Regions from separate parts of the Homo sapiens genome. Here region 2 is linked to region 1. The links come from fine-mapping of genetic effects on gene expression. Tissue or cell type: blood mononuclear cells. Region 1 holds a variant in brackets; the other region holds the start of a gene. All regions are shown on one strand. Distances are from middle to middle.

The links. PIP is the estimated chance that this variant, and not a neighbour inherited with it, causes the effect.
Region 2: it holds the start of CCDC77, and the variant in region 1 is fine-mapped to the expression of CCDC77 in blood mononuclear cells (TOPMed, PIP 0.97).

The regions. Positions count from the first base shown.
Region 1 is chr12:246,196-256,819 of GRCh38, forward strand. The region is part of intron 2 of SLC6A13 (solute carrier family 6 member 13); the gene reads right to left. It overlaps LOC102723544 (a long non-coding RNA gene), which reads right to left. Exons shown (of 3, transcript NR_120482.1): 2 at 10,278-10,445; 3 at 7,247-7,552. Among named protein-coding and RNA genes, the nearest start is that of SLC6A13, 11 kb to the right of the region's middle. The variant T/G (reference allele first, on the strand shown) is at 5,315.
Region 2 is chr12:396,579-407,202 of GRCh38, forward strand. It overlaps CCDC77 (coiled-coil domain containing 77), which reads left to right and starts at 5,066. Exons shown (of 13, transcript NM_032358.4): 1 at 5,066-5,106; 2 at 8,933-8,986. It overlaps LOC105369594 (a long non-coding RNA gene), which reads right to left and starts at 4,832. Exons shown (of 4, transcript XR_007063149.1): 1 at 4,740-4,832; 2 at 4,315-4,472. RefSeq lists enhancers at 4,590-4,909, 5,324-5,876, 10,265-10,559.

The DNA.
Region 1 (10,624 bases):
TGGTCCCAGCTACTTGGGAGGCTGAACCAGGAGAATTGCTTGAACCCGGGAGATGGAGGTTGCAGTGAACCGAGATCGCTCCACTGCACTCCAGCCTGGCAACAGAGTGAGACTCTGTCTCAAAAATAAATAAATAAATAAATAAATTATCCAGCAACCCATAAAGCAAAAATATTACCAGGTCTGGTATTCAATCGAAAATTACCAGGAAAGCAAAGAATCAGGAAAATGTTACTCATAGCAAGGAGATTGAACCTGACCCATAATTTACAAAGATGTTAGAATTAGCAGATGAGAATATTTAAAAGTTATTATAACTGTATTGCAAGTGTTCCAAAAGTTAGGGATATAAAAGATATTGAAAAAGACCCAAATAAAACTTCTGAACATGAACACTACAGTGTGTGAGATTTAAAGAAATACATTGGATGGGATTAATGTTAGTAGGCAGAGCAGAAGAAAAGATCAGTGACCTTGAACCATAATAGAAACTATCTAAAATAAAACACAGAGAGAAAAAAGAACATTTTTGCTGGGCATGGTAGTTCATGCCTGTAATCCCCGCATTTTGGGAAGCCGAGGCAGGTGGATCACCTGAGGTCAGGAGTTCAAGACCAGCCCAGCCAACATGGTGAAACCCTGTCTCTACTAAAAGTACAAAAATTAGCTGGGTGTGGTGGTGCATGCCTGTAATTCCAGCTACTTGGGAGGCTGAGGCAGGAGAATCACTTGAACCTGGGAGGTGGAGGTTGCAGTGAGCTGAGATCATACCACTGCACTCCAGCCTGGGTGACAGAGTGAGACTCCATCTCAAAAAAAAAAAAAAAGAAAGAAAGAAAAGAAAGAAAGAAAAGAAAAAAGAAATTTTTTAAAAAGAACAGGTATGCCTAAGTGGTGAGACAGCTTCAAAAAGCCTAATGTAATGGGAGTCTGTGAAAGAAAGAAAAGGGTGAGAAAAAGCTTACAGAAATAATAGCTGAAAATTTTACAAATTTTATGAAAACTATAAACCTATAGATCCAAAAAGTTCAACAAACACCAAGATTAAAAAAAAAATGAAAAAAAACTAGTCCAAGGTGCATCATAATCACATTACTTAAACCGGAATATGGAGCTTTTAAGAGAAAACCTTAAAAGTCACCAGAGAAAAACGACACATATGTACAGACAAAGATAAGAATAACATCAAATTTCTCATTTAAAACAATGCAAAAGAGAAGACAGTGATAAGGAAGCACATTTGCTGAAGCAATAAAGGAGGAGGGAGAAAGCTGTCAACCCGGAATTCTATACCCAGCAATAATACTGTTCAAAAAGGAAAGTGAAATAACTGTTTCTTAAGACATGCAAAACCTGAAAGGATCTACCACAAGTAGAACTGAACTACCAGAAATGTGGAAGAAACTCCTTCAGGGAGAATGAAATGATATCACCAGATAGAAATATGAATCTATACAAAGTAATAAAAAGCTTTAGAAATAGTAATTACATAGATAAACATAGAGAATGTTTTTCTTATTATTCAAATATTTTTTAAAAGATAATTGACTGGTTAAACAAAAATAAAAACAATGTAATATTGATTTTATAACATATAAAAATGTATAAGAAGAGCACAAAGGTTAGGAGGAAAGAAATGAAATTGTAATATTTTAAGGTTCTTATATATAAAGTGGTACATTATCACTTGAAGATAAAGTGTGATAAGTTAAAGATGTATACTACAAAGTTTAAAACAATCAGTAAAATAACACAACAAAGTTACAGCTAATAAGCCAACAAAAAGAAGAAAGCTAACAATGGAATAAGAAAAAATATTCAATTATTCCAAAAAAAAAGCAGGAGGAGAGGGAAGGGGGAAACAAATAACTGATAGGACAAAGAGAAAACAAATAATAGGATGATAGAGTTAAACCTAATTACATGGATAATCGTATTAAATGCAAATGGTCTAAACGTCCCAAATAAAAGGCAGAGATTGTTAGACTGGCTTTTAAAACCTGACAAGACTCAACTATATGCTGCCTTAAGAAAATGCACTTTGAATAAAAAAGACATGAAGAGGTTAAAAGTAAAAGGATAGAAAGATATACCATGCTGGGAGGCTGAGGCAGGAGAAATGGAGTGAACCCCGGGGGGCGGAGCATGCAGTGAGCCGAGGTTGCACCACTGCACTCCAGCCTAGGCGACAGCAAGACTCCGTCTCGGAAAAAAAAAAAAAAAAAAAAAGATATACCATGCTAACACTACTCAAAATAAATCTGTAAAGTTTATCTTAATGTCACACAAAGTAAACTTCAGAGCAAAGAATATTACCAAGGGTAAAGAAGGTAATTTCATAATGATTAAAGGGTCAATTAATCAAGAGGGTCAATTAATCAATCAGTATTTCAAGTGCATATTCACCTAATGACAGAGCTTCAAAATGCACGAAGCAAAAACTGACAGAACTACAAAGAGAAACATATAAACTAATTCCTGATAAATGTTAAAAACGTTAATAGCCCTCTCTCAATAATTTATAGAATAAGTATACAGAAAATCAGTATGGATATAACAGATTTGAAAATTATATCCACCAGCTCAACTTAGTTGACATTTATTGAACATTCTACCCAACAGTCCAACAGCAGAATATGCATTAGTTTCAAATGAACATGGAATATTCCACCAAGATGGGCCCATATCCTGGACCAGAGATCAAATCTCAGTAAGTTTAAAAGCATCCAAGTAATACAAAATTGGTTCTCTGACTAAATTAGAAATCTATCAGAGAAAGACATTTGGAAAATTGCCACCTATTTGGAAATTAGGTAACACATTTCTAAATAGCCTATGGCTCTACTGAAGTAATCAAAAGAGAAATTAGAAAGTATCTTGAATGGAATGAAATGAAACCCAGTATCATAATTTGTGGCATACTGCTAAAGCAGTACCTAGGAGATTTACTAAATGATAAAAGAAGAAAAGTTTCAAATCAATTACCTCGGCTTCCACCTTAAGAAATCAGAAATTATTGCTGAAATGAGGGTGTAGTTAAGAAAAAAAGAAAGAAAGAAATGAGAAGGATAAGAGCAAATGAAAGCCAAAGTAAGTCAAAGGAAATAAAAATCAGAGTGGAAATCAATAAAATGGAAAACAGGAAAGCAACAGAGAAAATCCATGAACCAAAAGCTGGTTCTTTGAGATAATAAAATTGATAAAATTTTAGAAGACACAAATTATCAGCATGACAAATGAGATGTATCCTCAGTAAAGATTCTATAGATATTAAAACAATAATAAGAAAAGATATGAAGAACTTTATGCCAGTAAGTGCAACAATTTAGGTAAAATAAAAAACGTAACTACCAAAGCCCACTCAAAAAGAAACAGTCTGAATAGCCCTATAACTATTAAGGAAAATTCATTTTTGGTTTAAACCCATCCCACAAAAATTTCCAGGCTCAAATGACTTCAGTGGTGAATCCTCCAAATATTTAAGGAAGAAATAACAGCAATTCTACACAAACTCTTCCAAAAAATTGAAAAGATGGAATGCTTACCCAACCAATTTTATAAAGTGAGCATTACCCTGATAATAAAAGCAGACAAATACATTATAAGAAAAGAAAGTTAAAGATCAACATATTTCATGAACATAAATGCCAAAATTCTAAATGATTTTAGGAAATCAAATCTAACAATATGTTAATAGGACAATATATTATATAGTAATGTTTATCCCAGAGATACAAAGTGGGTTTAACATTTTAAAAAATCAACATAGTGTTGTAGTCTCCAGCTGTTATAATAAATGGATAAATAAATAATGTGACTCATCCTGTTAACAAATTACAAAAGAAAAACTATATGATCATTTCATAGGTACAGTAAAGTATTTGACTGAATCCAACAGTCATTCCTAATAAAAACTCCCAGCAATGATGAGGAGAAGAGAACTTCCTCAACTTGATAGAGGGCATCTACAAAAAAACCCTACAGCTAACATCATACTTAATTGTAAAAGACTGCTAAGATTGAGAATAAAACAAGTGTCTATTCTTACTACTTCTATTCAATACTGTACTGGGGATTCTAGCCATAGAATCTAGCCAATAAGGCAAGATAAGGAATTAAAGGTTATTCCGATTTAAAAGGAAAAAATAACACTGCTTTATTCTCAGAAGACATGATATTCTACAATGAAAATCCTTTGGAATGCACACAAAAAAAAACCTATTAGAACCAATCAGTGAGTTTAGCAAGTTTGCAGGATACAGGATGGGCATACACAAATCAATTGTGTATGTATTAGGAATAAACAACCATAAATTAAAATGTAGGAAATAATACCATTTACAATAGCATCAAAAATATTAAATACTTAGGAATAAATCTGACAAAAGTTGTGAAAGATATATGTACACTCACAACTACAAAACATTGCTGAGAGAAATTAATGAAGAGCTAAATAAATGGAGAGTCATACCATATTCAGGATCAGAAGACTTAATATCATTAAAATGTCAATTCTTTCCAAATTGATCTATAGATTTAATACAATCCTAATCAAAAGCACAACAGACTTTTTTGTAGAAATTCACAAATTCTTTCTAAAATTCATCTGGAAATGATAAGGACCCAAAATAGCCCCCCAAAAAAAAAAAAAAAAAAACCTAAAAACAGGGCCTGGCGCAGTGGCTCATTTCTTTTTGGGAGGCATTTTGGGAGCATTCTGGGAGGCCAAGGTGGGTGGATCACGAGGTCAGGAGATCGAGACCATCCTGGCCAACACGGTGAAACCCTGTCTCTACTAAAAATACAAAAAATTAGCCGGGCATGGTGGTGGGCACCTGTAGTCCCAGCTACTCGCGAGGCTGAGGCAGGAGAATTGCGTGAACCCGGGAGGCGGAGCTTGCAATGAGCTGAGATCGCGCCACTGCACTCCAGCCTGGGCAACAGAGCAAGACTCTGTCTCAAAAAAAAACAAAAAAAAAAAACCTTTGAAAAAGAAGAACTGAAGTACTTAATTCCACCTGGTATTTATATTATCCTCAAGCACAGTAATGAACACAGTGTGGTACTGGTGTCAAAATAAACAGATCAATGGAACAGAGTAGAATTCATCAACAGACCCACATATATACAAATAACTCATTTTTGATGAAGGTATAAAGGCAATTCATTGGAAATAGGATAGTCTTTTCAACAAATGGTGCTGGCATAAGTGAATACCCATACAACCCCCCAGAAATGAACTTCAACCCATATCTTCACTGTATACAAAAATTAAGCCAAAATGAAACATAGAGCTAAATGTCAAACCTAAAAC[T/G]ATACATCTTCTAGAAGAAAATATGAGGCCTTGGGTTAGGCAAAGATCTCTTTATATGATATCAAAAGTATGGTTTATAAAATAAATAATTTATAAACCAGACATCATAAAAATTTAAAACGCCTTCTCTTCTAAAGACACTGTTAGAAACAGGAAAAACAGTCCAGGTGCAGTGGCTCACGCCTGTAATCCCAGCACTTTGGGAGGCCAAGGCTGGAGGATCGCTTGAGCCCAGGAGTTTGAGATCAGCCTAGGCAACATAGTGAGACCTCGTCTCTACCAAAAAAAAAAAAAGTTTTTAATTTTCCGGGCATGGTGGCACATGCCTATAGTCGCAGCTACTTTTGGGAGGCTGTGGTGGGAAGATCATTTGAGCTCAGAAGGTCAAGGATGCAGTGAGCCGTGACTGCACCATTGCACTGCACCATTGCACTTCGGCCTGGGTGACAGAGTGAGATCCCATCTCAAAAAAAAGAAAAGGAAAATTACAAAACACAGAATGAAAAAAATAGTATTTGTAAAATGCATTTCTGATAAAGGACTTGTGTGTTAGAATATATGAAGATACCTCGATAACAAAGGATAAACTACTGATACATGAAAACTATAAATGAAACCCTAAATAATTATGCTGTATCATAATTATCAACATACCATATGATTCCATTTATATAATATTCTAAGAAACGCAAACTAAGGTATGGTGGTATCACAATTTTCATAATTATCAACACACTGTATGATTCCATCTATATAATATTCTAAGAAAAACAAACTAGTTTAGTTTGCATTTAGCATAATTATTGATTGCACTGGGATGTGATGGCAGGAGTGAAGTTGGGAGGAAGGAATTAGAAAGAGACAGGAGTAACTGTTTTGGAAGTGATGGACATGTTTACTATCTCAATTGTGGCAGTGGTTTCATGCGTATATACATATGTCAAAATTTATCAAATTGTACACTTTAACTATGTGTGGTTTATTGTAAGTTAATGAGGAACCCAGTTCTCCAGTTCTTCACCTCCCACTTCTCAAGGTTGTATTCTACACATCCATAATTCAGGCACTAAGGGGGACTTGATCATGAGGACAAAGAAGGAAAGGTAGCAAACAATTCAGCCAAAGAAGTCCATAAATCAACCCAAGGTTTGCTGAGCAGGAAGGAAAACAGGAAAGATAGAACCCAGCAGCTGACAGGAACAGTCACTGTGGAGAGCCCAGTCCAGAAAGAAACAGCTATGGGCCCAGCCCAAGCCCCTTCCCATATTCATGCTTCCTGCTCTTTCTCTATAAACCAAGCCAATGTTTAACTCTGGGCCCCGTGGTCAGCTGCTCCCACCTCCTTCCTCTGCCTCGTTGAGCTCCTTGGCAGCCTGCCAAGAGGGACAAAGTCCACACCTGCAAGGAGGGGCTACAGGCCCTAGAAGTGTGAGAGGGGTCGGGGTGGGAGGGAGCCAAGGGGGCCAGGTACGGACTGAGGAGTGCTGAAGGGCATTCTGCCTCTTCCCCTCCGCAGGTACCACCATCAAAAGATGAAGTTAGTCCTGGGGATGGGGGGTGGAGTTCACAGTAACCTGCACCCCCATATCATCCATACTAGTCTCCTCAAAAATTCTAAAATGTGCTGGCATTTTCTCCGTGAGATAGGAGAGACCATATCCCCGTCCCAGAAAGCAATCACTCTCTTGGCCCCCCTTCTCAAAAGGAGCACGCTCTGTGGTGTCACTTGTAACGTTCCAGCCAATTTCTTACGGCATAAACTGACGATCTTCCACTTGAGCAACAGAAGAGCGAGGAGCTTCCATGAGGAGTTATGTGCTGTCCTCGGCATGAGCCTGACCAACAGTGGGCCCTGAGTCATTAACTACACTTGGTAACACACTGTCACTCACTGCTAAATTAACCATTACTTTTATATGAACACACGAACAGTGCTTCTTATTTCTCTTTATTCTCTGCTATCTATAAACAGCACAGGGCTAATGGTTTTCCTTGCTGCCAAGGGAATCCTCTTTGTGTGGGCATCCCAGTGCACCTTCTTTACAGGCTGGAGCTGAGGGATCTTTCCCCTCCAGGCCCTTCTGAGAGGTCCTGCTGTGTGCCTCCTGTCGTGGCCTCACATGGGGACTCCAGTCCCAAGTTAATTCTGGGTGTTGAGCAACTTGGTCTGCCAGCAGCCAGGGTCCAGGCAGTTGGAGAGGTCTCAGCTGAAGGCCCGTGTTCTGAAGCACCCAGGACCTAGGTATGGGAAGACTGAGGCTCTGAAGAGGAGTTGGAGGGGACAGGGAGGAAGTCCTCGCAAAAGATGGTCTCCAGCTGGTGTCCTGAGACTAGTGGAAAACTTAAAAGGTTCTTGGCACGGGTAACTTCTGCCCCGAGTGAAATTTCAGCAACCTGGACTTAGAAATTAAGTGAAAATGTTGGCAGACGGTTTTTTCATCTGGGCTGAGATAGGCAGGAAGGTGATTTAAATTCCCCGCTGGCTATGGACAGTCCTATGACCAGAACCCTCTCCCGCTACCTTCTTCCCACATCACGCCTCCTGCGTTATCCAGCATCTCCTCGTCCCATGACTGGAACTTTAACTGGGCAGGCCCTAGTAGAAAATCGTATTTGCTTTCCCTCCTGGCAGCTGAGGGTGGAGGGCTGGAGGAATAGTTCAAATGTCAAGCTTCTTCAGCCGCCTCGCCAGCTCAGGGCCCCACCCCCGAGGAGTCTGGCCACTGGCACACTGTCACTGCTACGCAGGACTCACATGGCCCCCTTCCGCCCAGAAGGGAAATACACAAGGAAGGGGTGGATTTTACCTACTCCCACATTTTGCCCCAATAACCCACATTTACTATTTCCAATTCCTTTCTCCCATCTCCCCCATTATCTTAAATCCATTTCAATCAGTCATTGTCCCCAGCCCTCCACTGTAACCGCTCTTATCATCAATGACTTCCCAGCTGCTAAAACCAACAATCAATTTCCTTTCCTCATCTTCTTAACCTATCTGCAGCCTTTGCTGCAGTTAATTTCTCCCTCCTCCCTGATAGAATTTCTTCACTCGACTTTCCAAAACACTTCATTCTCTTGGTTTTCATCCTGCTTTACCAGTTTCTCATTTTCTGTCTCCTCTGCTGGTTTCCCATCTTCTCCCAGACCCACTAAAGGTCCTTACTTTCTTTTCTTATACCATCAAAATGCTAATGATCCCCAAATACACACCTCCAGCCAGATCTCTCTCACAAACCCCAAACTCACATTCTATTGCCCAGTTGCCATTTCCACATGGACATCTGATAGATACCTCAACTCAACTTTCCCAAAATTCACCTCCTTACTTTCCCTTCAAAACCTGCTCCTCTGGGGCTAGGCACAGTGGCTTATGCCTGTAATCCCAGCACTTTGGGAGGCCGAGGCAGGCAGATCACTTGAGACCAGGAGTTTGAGACCAGCCTGGCCAACATGGCGAAACCCCCTCTCTATTAAAAACAACAACAACAACAAAACAAAACACAAAACCTTGCTCCCTTCATGGCCTTCCACGTCTCAGTGAATGGCAGCTCCTTCCTTCCAGTCACTCAGGTGAAAACTCTCGGATTGCTTAGATGGGTGCTAGCAGTGGAGGGGATGAGAAGTGGTCGGGTCCTGCACATCTCATCGCGGGGGCTCTAGTCCCAGGCATTCGGGTGCTGAGCTACTCGCTCTGCCAGCAACCAGGGTCCAGGGAGCTGGAGAGGTCCTGAAGCTCCCAGGACCTGGGTGTTTGGGTAGAGTCAAGAGCTATGAGAGGTGGAGGAAATTAAGGATGACTCCAAGATTTTTGCCTTATAACCAGTCAGCTTCTGCCTTCACTCCCCTATACTCAGTTCTCAACATACCAGCTAGAGAGATTATTTTAAAATGTAAGATGACTGTCCGGGCGCAGTGGCTCATGCCTGTAATCCCAGCACTTTGGGAGGCCAAGGTGGGCAGATCACCTGAAGTCAGGAGTTCGAGACCAGCCTGGCCAACACGGCAAAACCTCGTCTCAACTAAAAATACAGAAATTGGCCGCGCGTGTTGGCGCGCGCCTGTAGTCCCAGCTACTGGGGAGGCTGAGGCGGGAGAATCACTTGAACCCAGTAGGTAGAGGTTGCAGTGAGCTGAGATTACGCCACTGCACTCCAGCCTGGGTGACAGAGCGAGACTCCATCTTGGAGGGGGCGGAAATAATGTGAGATTACTGCTGCCCAAAACCCTGCCCTGCATCTGAATGTCACTAGAGCAAAAGCTGAAGTCTGAGAGTGGCCAACCTGACATACCTGATCTGCCCCTCTCCCTGTCCCCAGCCCATTTACTTCCCTGACCTTACCTTCTATTCACTTGCCCAGCTCCAGGCTTGAGTCCTCCTCAAACAAGCCAGCCAGACTCTTGCTTCGTTTCAACCTTTGTTTCCTCTGCCTAGAGGAAAGCACTTTCACCCAACCCCATAATATCCACATGGCCAGTTCTCTCACTCCTGGCAAGGCTTTGCTCACATGCTCTCAATGACCACCCTTTTAAAAATTGCCACCACCCACACCCACACTCCTGATCCCCTTTACCCAGCTCTCCTTGTTCTTTTTCTATAGCACTCATTAATTCTGGAATGCTACCTAATTTACTCATTTATCCCATTTATTGTGTAGTGTCTGTCTCCCTCCTCTAGAATGTATGCCCTATGAGGACAGGGAATTGGTCCGTTTTGATTATAGATGTATCCCAACCACCTAGAACAGTTCCTGGCTTTTGCTACGTGCTCAGTAAGTATTTGCTGGTGAATGACACAGGCTCAGGGCTTGGCTGAGTATGCGCCGAGGCAATGGAAAGAGACTGGAAATTATAAAGCCAGTAGGATGAAGCAGGTGCCTGGGGGTGGATCAGCTGCAGGTCCTGGACAGCAGGGAGATTATTTACCCAGGAGATGGTGGAGGCGGGCATCCCTCTCACTCACCTCCCTAAAAGCGTCCCTGTTGCTTCCGATTTCAGATGGGCTTCTTTGAATCACTTTCTCAGCTTCCCTGCCTTTTGACTACAGTTTTCAGCTGTTTGCCTTGTGTTCTATCATAGCCTTGCCTCAGCTCTGGAACTCATTTCAAATTAGATCTACCACATGTTGACGCTGGAAGAAACCAAAGAAGATGTCACTTACATTTTTAGTTTGGAACTAAAATTGTGCTCTGAGGACTTCTTCATCCCTGAGCTTCTCACTAAACAAATACTACTACGAATCCAATTCCTTGATTGCCCTCCCCTCCCCGCCAAGCACAAGAGTGGCTACTTGGAGCTGTGAATTTAAAG
Region 2 (10,624 bases), 150 kb after region 1:
ACCAATCCCTAGCAGATACTGAGCAAGGGACAACTGTATTTCCAATTAGGGAGATAAGTCAAGATTTTACAAAAGTGGTAGTATTTGAGTTGGCTCTCGTAAGAATTTTGAGTGAAGATGCACTGAAAGGGCCAATCCAGATAAAAGGAAGAGTGTGAACTGAAGCTGGAAAGTGCGTCCTGTGTTCAGGAGATGACCACATCAATTTCTTCTAATAGAGACAAATGGGGTCAGATAGCTGCAGTCTTTGAATGCCATACTACTGTCTGAACTTCATTCTCTAGTCTGTGGGGAGTCATCAAAGTTTATAAGCAGGAGTGTGACAGACCCGGAATTGAATTTTTTGGAGACAGAGTCTCGCTCTGTCACCCAGGCTGGAGTGCAACAGCGTGATCTCAGCTCACTGCAACCTCCACTTCCTGAGTTCAAGCAATTCGCCTGCCTCAGCCTCCTGAGTAGCTGGGATTACAGGCATGTGCCACATGTAACCACACCCAGCTAATTTTTGTATTTTTACTAGAGATGGGGCTCATGCCTGTAATCCCACCACTTTGGGAGGCTGAGGCGGGTGGATCACGAGGTCAGGAGTTCAAGACCAGCCTGGACAAAAATCACCTTTTATAGAATGGATTGGAGGCAAGAACACCCAGTTAGAAGCCTATGGTAATAGACCAAGTGAAAGGTAATAAGACACATAGTGGAAATAAATAGGAAGATATATATGAAGACAGGCTCACCATGACTTGATTTTTTAAAAATTGCAGGGGCTAAAAGAAAGGAAATAGACAAAAGATACCGAGCCGAGATGTTTGGGAAGATATTAATGTAATTAACAGAGAAAATCACAAGGGAGAAAAAAGCAGGTTTGGGAGTACAGGCATAACTTGGAGATATTGCAGGTTCAGTTCCAGACCACCATAATAAAGTGAATATCACCATAAAGCAAATTGCTCGAAATTTTCGGTTTCCTGGTACATAAAAAAAGCTATGTGTTTACACGATACTGTAGTCTAGTGCATTATTTCTAGTTTGCATTATTTCTTTAAAAAAATTTACATGCCTTAATTTAAAATGCTTTTTTTTTTTGAGACAGAGTCTTGCTCTGTCACCCAGGCTGGAGTGCAGTGGCGCGATCTCAGCTCACTGCAGCCTCTGCCTCCTGGGTTCAAGTGATTCTCCTGCCTCAGCCTCCCGAGCAGCTGGGACTACAGGCGCCCGCCACCACGCCCGGCTAATTTTTTGTATTTTTAGTAGAGATGGGGTTTCACTGTCTTAGCCAGGATGGTCTCCATCTCCTGACCTCGTGATCCGCCCGTCTCAGCCTCCTGCAGTGCTGGGATTACAGGCGTGAGCCACCGCGACTGGCCTTAAAATACTTTATTCTAAAAATGCTAATGATCGTCTAAGCCAAGTCATAATATTTTCACTGATGGAGGGTCTAGCCTTGATGTTGGGGGCTGCTGACTGATCATGGTGCTGATTGCTAAAGGCTGGGGTGGCTGTGGCAATTTCTTAAAATAAGACAACAATGAAGTTGTTTTCATTCTTCCTTTCATGATATTGATTGATTCTTCCTTTCATGAAAGATTTCTCTGTAGCATGCAATGCTGTTTGATAGCATTTTACCCATAGTAGAACTTCTTTCAAAGTTGAAGTCAATCCTCAAACCCTGCAACTGCTTTATCGACTAAGTTTATGGAATATTCTAAACCCTTTGTTGTCATTTTGGCAATGTTCACAGCATCTTCACCAGGAGTAGATTCCAGCTAAAGAAACCACTTTCTTTACTTATTCATAAGAAGCAACTCTTCATCCATAGTTTCATCATGAGATTGCAGCAATTCAGTCACATCTTCAGGTTCCACTTTTTTTTTTTTTTGAGACAGAATCTTGCTCTGTTGCCCAGGCTGGACTGCAGTGGCGCGATCTGGGCTCACTGCAACCTCTGCCTCCCGGGTTCAAGCGATTCTCCTGCCTCAGCCTCCCAAGGCTCCACTTCTAATTCTAGTTCTCTTGCTACTTCCACAGCATCTGCAGTTATTTCGTCCATGAAGTCTTGAACCCCCTCAAAGACATCCAAGAGGATTGGAATTAACTTCTTCCAAACTCCTGTTATTATTGATATTGACCTCCTCCCATAAGTCACAAATGTTCTTTTTAAAATTTTTTTATTAAATATATTTTTACTTTTTTTTTTTTGAGACACAGTCTTGCTCTGTCACTCAGGCTGGACTGCAGTGGCACAATCTCGGCTCACTGCAACCTTGGTCTCCCAGGCTCAAGCAATCCTCCCACCTCAGCCTCCCAAGTAGCCAGGTGCATGCCACCACTCCTGGCTAGTTTTTGTATTTTTTTATAGAGACAAGGTTTTCTATGTTGCCCAGGCTTGTCATGCACTCCTGAGCTTAAGTGATCCACCCACGTTGGCCTTCCAAAGTGCTGGGTTTACAGGTGTGAGACATCTCACCAAGCCAAGTCACAAATGATCTTAAGGACATCTAGAATGGTGGTGAGTCCTTTCCAGAAGGTTTTCGATTTACTTTGCCCAGATCCACCAGAGAAATCACTATGTCTGGCAGCTATAGCCTTATGAAATATTTTTTTTTTTTTGAGGCGGAGTTTCACTCTTGTTGCCCAAGCTGGAGTGCAATGGCACGATCTCAGTTCACTGAAACCTCCGCCTCCCAGGTTCAAGTGATTCTCCTGCCTCAGCCTCCTGAGTAGCTGGGATTACAGGCATGCGCCATCATGGCCAGCTAATTTTGTATTTCTAGTAGAAACGGGGGTTTCTCCATGTTGGCCAGGCTGGTCTCGATCTCCTGACCTGGTGATCCGCCCACCTCAGCCTCCCAAAGTGCTGGGATTACAGATGTGAGCCACCGTGCCCGGCCTGAAATATATTTCTTAATAAGACCTGAAAGTCAAAATGACTCCTTGATCCATGAGCTGCAGAATGTCTGTTGTGTTTGCAAGCATGAAAGCAACATTCATCTGTTTGCATACCTCCACCAGAGCTCTTGGGTGACCAGTTGCATTGTGAGTGAGAAGTAATATTTTGAAAGAAATCCTTTTTTTCCTGAGCAGTAGGACTTAAAATAAAACATACATAAAACGGTGAACTTAAAATACTCAGTTAACCATGCTATAAACATATATGCTGTCATCCAGGTTTTGTTGTTCCATTTATAGAGCACAGGCAGACTATATCTAACATAATTCTTAAGGGCTCTAGGATTTCAGGGATGTAAATGGGCACTGGCTTCAACTTAAAGTCACCAGTTGCATTAGCCCCTAACATGAGAGTCAGTCTGTTCTTAGAAGCTGTGAAGCCAGGTATTGACTTCTCTCTAGCTACAAAAGTACTACTTGGCATCTCCTTCCAATAAAAGGCTGGTTCATATATATCAAAAGTCTGTAGTTTAGTTTAGCCACCTTAATCAATTACCTTAGTTAGCTCTTCTGAATAACTTGCTGCGGCATCTACATCAGCACTTGCTGCTTCCACCTTGCACTTTTAAGTAACGGAAATAGCTCCTTTCCTTAAACCTCACGAACCAGCCTCCGCTATCTTCCACCTTTTCTTCTGCAGCTTCCTCACCTGTCTCAGCCTTCATTTTATTGAAGAGTTAGGACTTTGCTCCAGATTAGGCTTTGGCTTCAGGGAATGCTGTGGCTGGTTTGATCTTCTATCCAGACCACTCAAACTTTCTCTATATCAGCAATGTCTGTTTCACTTTCTTATCATTTTTGTGTTTACTGGAGTAGCACTTTTAATTTCCTTCAAAAACTTTTCCTTTGCATGCACAACTTGGCTAACTTTGGTGCAAGAAGACTGGCTTTCATCCTGTCTTGGCTTTCAACATGCCTTTTTCACTGAGCTTAATCATTTTCAGCTTTTTATTTAAAGTAAGAGATGTGTGACTCTTCCTTTCACTTGAACCCCCACTGTAGGATTGTTAATTGGTCTAATTTCAATATTGTTGTATCACAGGAATAAGGAGGCAAGAAGAGAGGGAGAAAGGCAGGGAGACTGCTGGTCTGTGGAGCAGTTAAAACATCCACAACATTTATGAATTAAGTTTGCCATCTTATATGGGCATGGTTCATGGTGCCCCTAAACAATTATAATAGTAATATAAAGGATAACAGATCAGCATAACATATACAATAATTATGAAAAAGTTTGAAATATTGTGAAAATTACCAAATGTGGTGCAGAGACACATAGTAAGCCTGTGCTGTAGGAAAAATGGCGCAGATAGATTTGGTTCCATGCAGAGTTGCCACAAACCTTACATTTGTAAAAACAGTTACCTGGGAAGCGCAATAAAGGAAAGTGCGAGCCTGTAGCAGATGCACGTTCCATTTAGACATCCTTAGGACTCACACCAGCGAAGGGCCCCAGCTTTTCCATACCAGTAGCTGTAATTCTGAGACGAAAGTGCTTTTCCCCCACCTTTACACCTTGCTTTCTGGAAAGATAAGACCATAATGGATTTTGAACTTGCTTTTATCATTAAAGCCCAGTGTCTTACATTTCTCCGGAAAAGGAAGCAGTGTTTGCTATGGAACAAATAGTAGAATTTTAATACATAGTCCCCTGACCGTAGAAACTGAACCTCAGGTCCTATCCTGGCTCTAGGCCACCCGGTCATGGAAGAAGAAACTTTTCTTAGAATCTTTATCTCTTGAGACAAGCTTGGAAATTACAACATATATGTACCATGAACGCGAAGTACCTGAGCTCAAAGCAGTTGAGCAATCTTAAGTGGGGGTGCCCGAAAGTGGTGCGTTCTGACCCCAAACGTCACACTACCCGTCCCTGGAGGAGCGGGTTGCAGCCCAGCTGCGTCGCCCCGCGCAGAGCTCCAGGCAGAAGAAAACTACATTTCCCAGAGACCTCTGCGCGGTCGGGAGCACCGCGAGGAGGGGCGAGATGGGGGCGGGCCTCTGTGTGAAGGCCCTTCCCATTGGTGCGCATTCCAAAGGGCCATGTAAACTTCTTCGCGATTGCACGGATTCAGGGACGCTCAGTGGCGCCGCGCCGCTCCTTGGTTTGACTTTTGTTTTTCAGTTGCGTTCCCTGACTCGGAGTCTTAGTGTGTCGTGAGTATAGAGTTTCGGGTTTGGGGTGAAGGGGTTAGGTAAGAAGCCTTGGGAAGAAAATCTGGTTAGGGAGAAGTAACTGCGGAAGCAGTGCGGAGGAGAGGACGTGAGCCTGAATGTGGTGTCCGTGGAGGGGCTGGGGACCGGAGGAGGAAAGCTCCAATGTGCAAAGGGAGAGACCTCAGGAGTGCTGGAGCGTTGGGACCTGGAGCAGTGAGGCGGTCGAGAATGGGATGAAGTGGGAAAAGGAGTACGGGATTCGGGCGCCCTGGAGATGCGTTCCGGTGTACTCTAACCCCACGCTGGTCTAGCTCTCAGTTTCCTCATTTGTGAAATAAGGGATAGTGAAAATACTGAACGGTTGTTGGGATAATAAATTGTACAGATTTGTCACGTGGCTAAAAGAAAAAAATTCAAAGTGCTACACAAATGTTAATTGTTAGTAGACAAGCTATAAGAATATATCTAAGCAAGGGTATTGGAGATAGGTGCAGAGACCCTAGCTGAAACCCGTTAATTTACCTATAAACAAAGGCATTGTTCCTTTGGAAGAGGCAATGAAGAGTAAGACGCGATTTCTGTCTGTAGGGAGCGCACGCTAGCATGGGAGAAACGATAGCAATAAAGCACTCTAATATGTTGACTTGTAGATAATTTCAAAGGCAGTTCTTTTGCACTTAGATCATTTTTGCTAAATCATTTTGGATGGGGAGACTCAGGAAAGAGAAAAAGGAGGTGGTATTTAAGATGAGTTTTCATGTACAGACTAGATTTTGTTAAGTGAAATTATGAGGGTTGTGGAGGGAGTTGTGTTCCAGCTAGAGGGAAGCTCATGAACAAAGGTATGGAGGCAGGAAAGTTATCTGGAAACGGTACATTTAGGAGAGTAGAGAGAAATAAGGCAGGAAAGTTAGGTTTGGCCCTTATGTAGAAAGCCATGAATTCTAGGCTAACAAATTGGATTTAATGCTTTAGGCTATGAGGTGCTACTGATGTATTTTATTAAAGAAAATGGTCCAGGAGACGCAAGGAGTAGGTAGAACCGTTAAGGTGTTGTAATGGTGTGGGTAAGAAGTATTGAGACTCTGAATTAACATGGTCATTGTGGAGATAAAATATACAAGATATTCATATGGTTAGACAGGAGGTTCAGAAGAATGAGTGATCAAATGATGAATTTAAGTTGCCAACTCCCGGTTGCTTGGAAACGCTGAATTAGTAACTAAAATAGGAAAGTCAGAAGGGGCATGTTTGGATAAAAAGATGATGTGTTAGGTTTAGGAAATGTTAGCTTTGAGATGCTAAAAAAATACCTAACTTGAGTGATTTCTTTTTTAAGTTAAACGTTTCAAGTGCCAGTGGGACTATGGGTGAAAATGTCCACTACATTTTTGTTAATTCAAATCAAGAGGTTGAAAGAGATGTCGTTTATTTATTCAACATGTAATTGTTACTTACTGTATGCCATGTAGTGTTTTAGATGACAGAGTTAATAATAAAAACAGGAGGAATAATGATGTTCCCAAAGAAATGGTTAGAGGAAATGATAAAGAAACTTGAAGACAGAACCTCTGAGCCAAGGGAGTAAAATTGTCAATAATAATAATAGTCCACATTTACTGAGTGCTTATATATGTGTCAAACACTGTCCCTCGGCCTTATATCCGTACACCAACCTATGACATAGAAGTAACTGAAATTTAGAGAGGATAACTTGCCTGAGGTACACAGCTAATAAGAGGCAGGGCTTTGACTCAAACCCAAGTCTGATATCAGAGCCCACATTCTCAACTACAAAGCAATATTTATTTTTATTATTATTTTTTCCAGGTAAGGTCTCACTCTGTCACCTAGGCTGGAGAGCAGTGGGGCAATCTCAGCTCAGTGCAGCCTCTGCCTCCCAAGCTCAAGCAATCCTCTGCCTCAGCCTCCTGAATAGCTGGGACTACAGGCACGTGCCACCACTCCCAGCTAATTCTGTAATTTTTGTAGAGACAGGGTTTCACCATGTTGCCCAGGCTGGTCTCAAACTCCTGACCTCCAGCAGTCCATTCACCTTGGCCTCCCAAAGTGCTGGCATTACAGGCATGAGCCACTGTGCCCAGCCTATTTTAATTGTTTTTTGAGACAGGGTCTTGCGCTGTTGTCCAGGCTAGAGTGCAGTGGCACGATCACTGCTCGCTGCAGCCTTGAACCCTCAGGCTGAAGTGATCCTCGCACCAAGCAGGTGGGACTACATTGCCACTGTGCCCAGCTAATTTTTAAAATTTTGGTAAAGACAGGGTCTTGCCATGGCCTGGCCATGCCAAGGTCCGGTCCCAAAGTGATATATTTTTAAAGGGTAGTTGGCACTACCAGGCACAGTGGCTCACGCCTGTAATCCCAACACTGGCAGGCAGAGGTGGGTGGATCATCTGAGGTCAGGAGTTCGAGACCAGCCTGGCCAACATGGCGAAACCCTGTCTTTACTAAAAATACAAAAAAAATTAGCCACAGTGGCAGGTGCCTGTAATCCCAGCCACTGGGGAGGCTGAGGCAGGAGAATCACTTGAACCCAGGAGGTGGAGGTTGCAGTGAGCCAAGATCGTGCCACTGCACTCCAGCCTGGGCTGAACAGAGTGAGACTCTGTCTCAAAAAATAAATAAATAAATAGGTAGTTGGCACTATCTAATTAAGAATACAAGTGAAGGAGTAACTATTGGATGGAGGAGGATAGAAACAGAAAAGAGCAATTGAATTTATTAATTTGGATGTCTGCTGACCAATAAGAGCTTGGTTAGATGTCATAGTAGAAGCCCGAGGCCTGGCTCAGTGGCTCATGCCTGTAATCTCAGCACTTTGGAAGGCCAAGGGAGGAGGATTGTTTGAGTCCGGGAGTTCAAGGCCAGCCTGGGCAACATAGCAAGGCCCCGTCTTGCAGCCAGAGAGGTGAGTGTAGACAACTTTTCGTAGACATGTGCAACAGTGAGGACAGTCACTATGAAGGAGAAGAGGGATTGCAGGTTGTTAGAAGGGTCTTTCAAAGCTTCAAATTACTTTTTTTTTTTTTTTTTTGAGACGGAGTTTCGCTCTTGTTGCCCAGGCTGGAGTGTAATGGCGCGATCTTGGCTCACCACAACCTCCGCCTCCCAGGTTCAAGCAATTCTCCTGCCTCAGTCTCCTGAGTAGGTGGGATTATAGGGATGCACCACCATGCCCAGCTAACTTTGTATTTTTAGTAGAGATGGGGTTTCTCCAGGTTGGTCAGGCTGGTCTTGAATTCCTGACCTCAGGTGATCCGCCTTCCTCGGCCTCCCAAAGTGCTGGGATTACAGGCAGGAGCCACTGTGCCCAGCCGCTTCAAATTACTCTTAAATGGCTTTGAAACAGTGAAATTTAACTTTAAGTTGTCACCCATATCCGTACAATGGAATTTTATTCAGCCACAAAAAGGAATGAAGTACTGATACATGGTACCACATAGGTGAACCTTGAAAACATTATGCTAAGTGAAACAAGACAGTCACAAAAGACCATATACTATGTGATTCCATTTATAGGAAAGTCCAGAATAGGGAAATCTGTAGAGACAGTAGGTTAGTGGTTGCTTAGGACTGGGAGACAGGGATAATAGCTGAAGGACACAGGGTTTTTTTCTTGAAGTGACGAAACTTCTAGAATGGACTGTGCTGATAGGTACACGTATCTGTGAATATACTAAAAATCATTGAATTTACACTTTGAATGAGTTTAATGGTGTACACAAATTACATTCCATAAAGCTGCTTTTTTAAAAAAATGTTACCCATAATCCTTCCATGCCAATCCAATAACTTTATTTTCTAGGTTATTTGGACAAGAGGCACATTGACCCAATTTGGAGACGTATTTTGGAAGGAGGTGAGTTTGGAGGAGGAGAGTAGTCTTTTAAAGGAGAGAATTAGAAGAAAGATGGCGTATTTGAAGGGTTGGCTGTAGAAGAAAACAAATGGGATGAGAGAAGCAGAAACAGATTTTTAAATCTAGATTGAATAGACTGGCCAGCAGAAGAAAAGGATGTTTAACAGTCTTTCAAATTCATATTGAGAGTTGTATATATATACATATACACTTAGTATGAGCCAGGCACTGTTTATGTTACTAGGGATACAGCAGTGAACATAATAGATAAAAACCCGCTGCCTTTAGTGAGTTTGCATATTCCAGTGTGGAGAGACAGACATTAAATATTAGATGGTTATAAGTGTTCAACTTTTTTTTTTTTTTTTTTTTAAGAGAGGGTCTCACTCTGTCACCCCAGCTGGACTGCAATGGCGTGATCATGGCTCACTGCAGCCTTGATCCCCCGGTGCAGGCGATCCTCCTACCTCGGCCTCCTGTTTAACTAGGACTACAGACATGTGCCACCACATCTGGCTAATTTTTTGTAGAGACAGGGTTTTGCCATGTTGCCCAGGCTGGTCTCAAACTCCTGGACTCAAGCAGTCTATCCGCCTTGGCCTCCCAAAGTGCTGAGATTACAGGCGTGAGCCACTTCAACTAGCCAAGGTTGTAAGTGTTAATGGAGAAAAGTAAAACAGAGAAGAGGGATGAGGTTGGTAGAGTGGTCAGGGAAGACTTCATCAAGAAAGTGACATTTTAGCCCTGAAGGAGGAGAGGGAGTAAGCCACATAGATAAATGGGGAAAGAACATCATAGCAAAGAGAACTGTAGGTACGGGGACTCTGAAGTAGAAGTGTGCCTGGCACGTTTGAAGAACAGCCAAGAGGCCGGTGTTTTTACCGCAGTGAACAAGGATAAGAGTAGTAGGTGAGGTCACAGAAGTAATGAGGTTGGCCAGATCATACAGGACCTTGTCGGCAATTTTAAAGACCTTGACCCTCTGAGTAAGATGAAAAGTCATTGGAGGCTTTTGGGCAGAGGAGTTTTGTGTTTTGACACATATATATTAATGTGTTGAGAATACATTATAAGGGATGAGGTTGAAAATGGAACAGGGGGACCAGGCGTGGTGACTCATGCCTGTAATCCCAGCACTTTGGGAGGCCAAGGCAGGTGGATCACCTGAGGTCAGGAGTTCAAGACCAGCCTGGCCAACATGGTGAAACCCCGTCTCTACTAAAAATACAAAAATTAGCCAGGCTTGGTGGTATGTGCCTGTCTTCCCAGCCACTCGGGAGGCTGAGACAGGAGAATCACTTGAATCCTGGAGGCAGAGGTTGCAGTGAGCCGAGATTGCGCCATCGCACTCCAGCTTGGATGACACAGCAAGACTTTGTCTCACACACACAAAAGTGGAACGAGGAGACCAGTTAAGAGACCGTTGTCGTCATCTGGGCAACAGATAGCAGTGGGTTGGAAGCCAAGCGCAGTGACTCATGCCTATAATCCTATTACTTGTGTGGCTGAGGGGAGAGGATTGAGTGAAGCCAGGAGTTTGAGACAAGCCTAGGCAGCAAAGCAAGACCCTGTATCTAAAACAACAAAAGCAAAAACAGTGGACTGGACCAGGGCAATGAGGGCATAGGTGATAAGTAG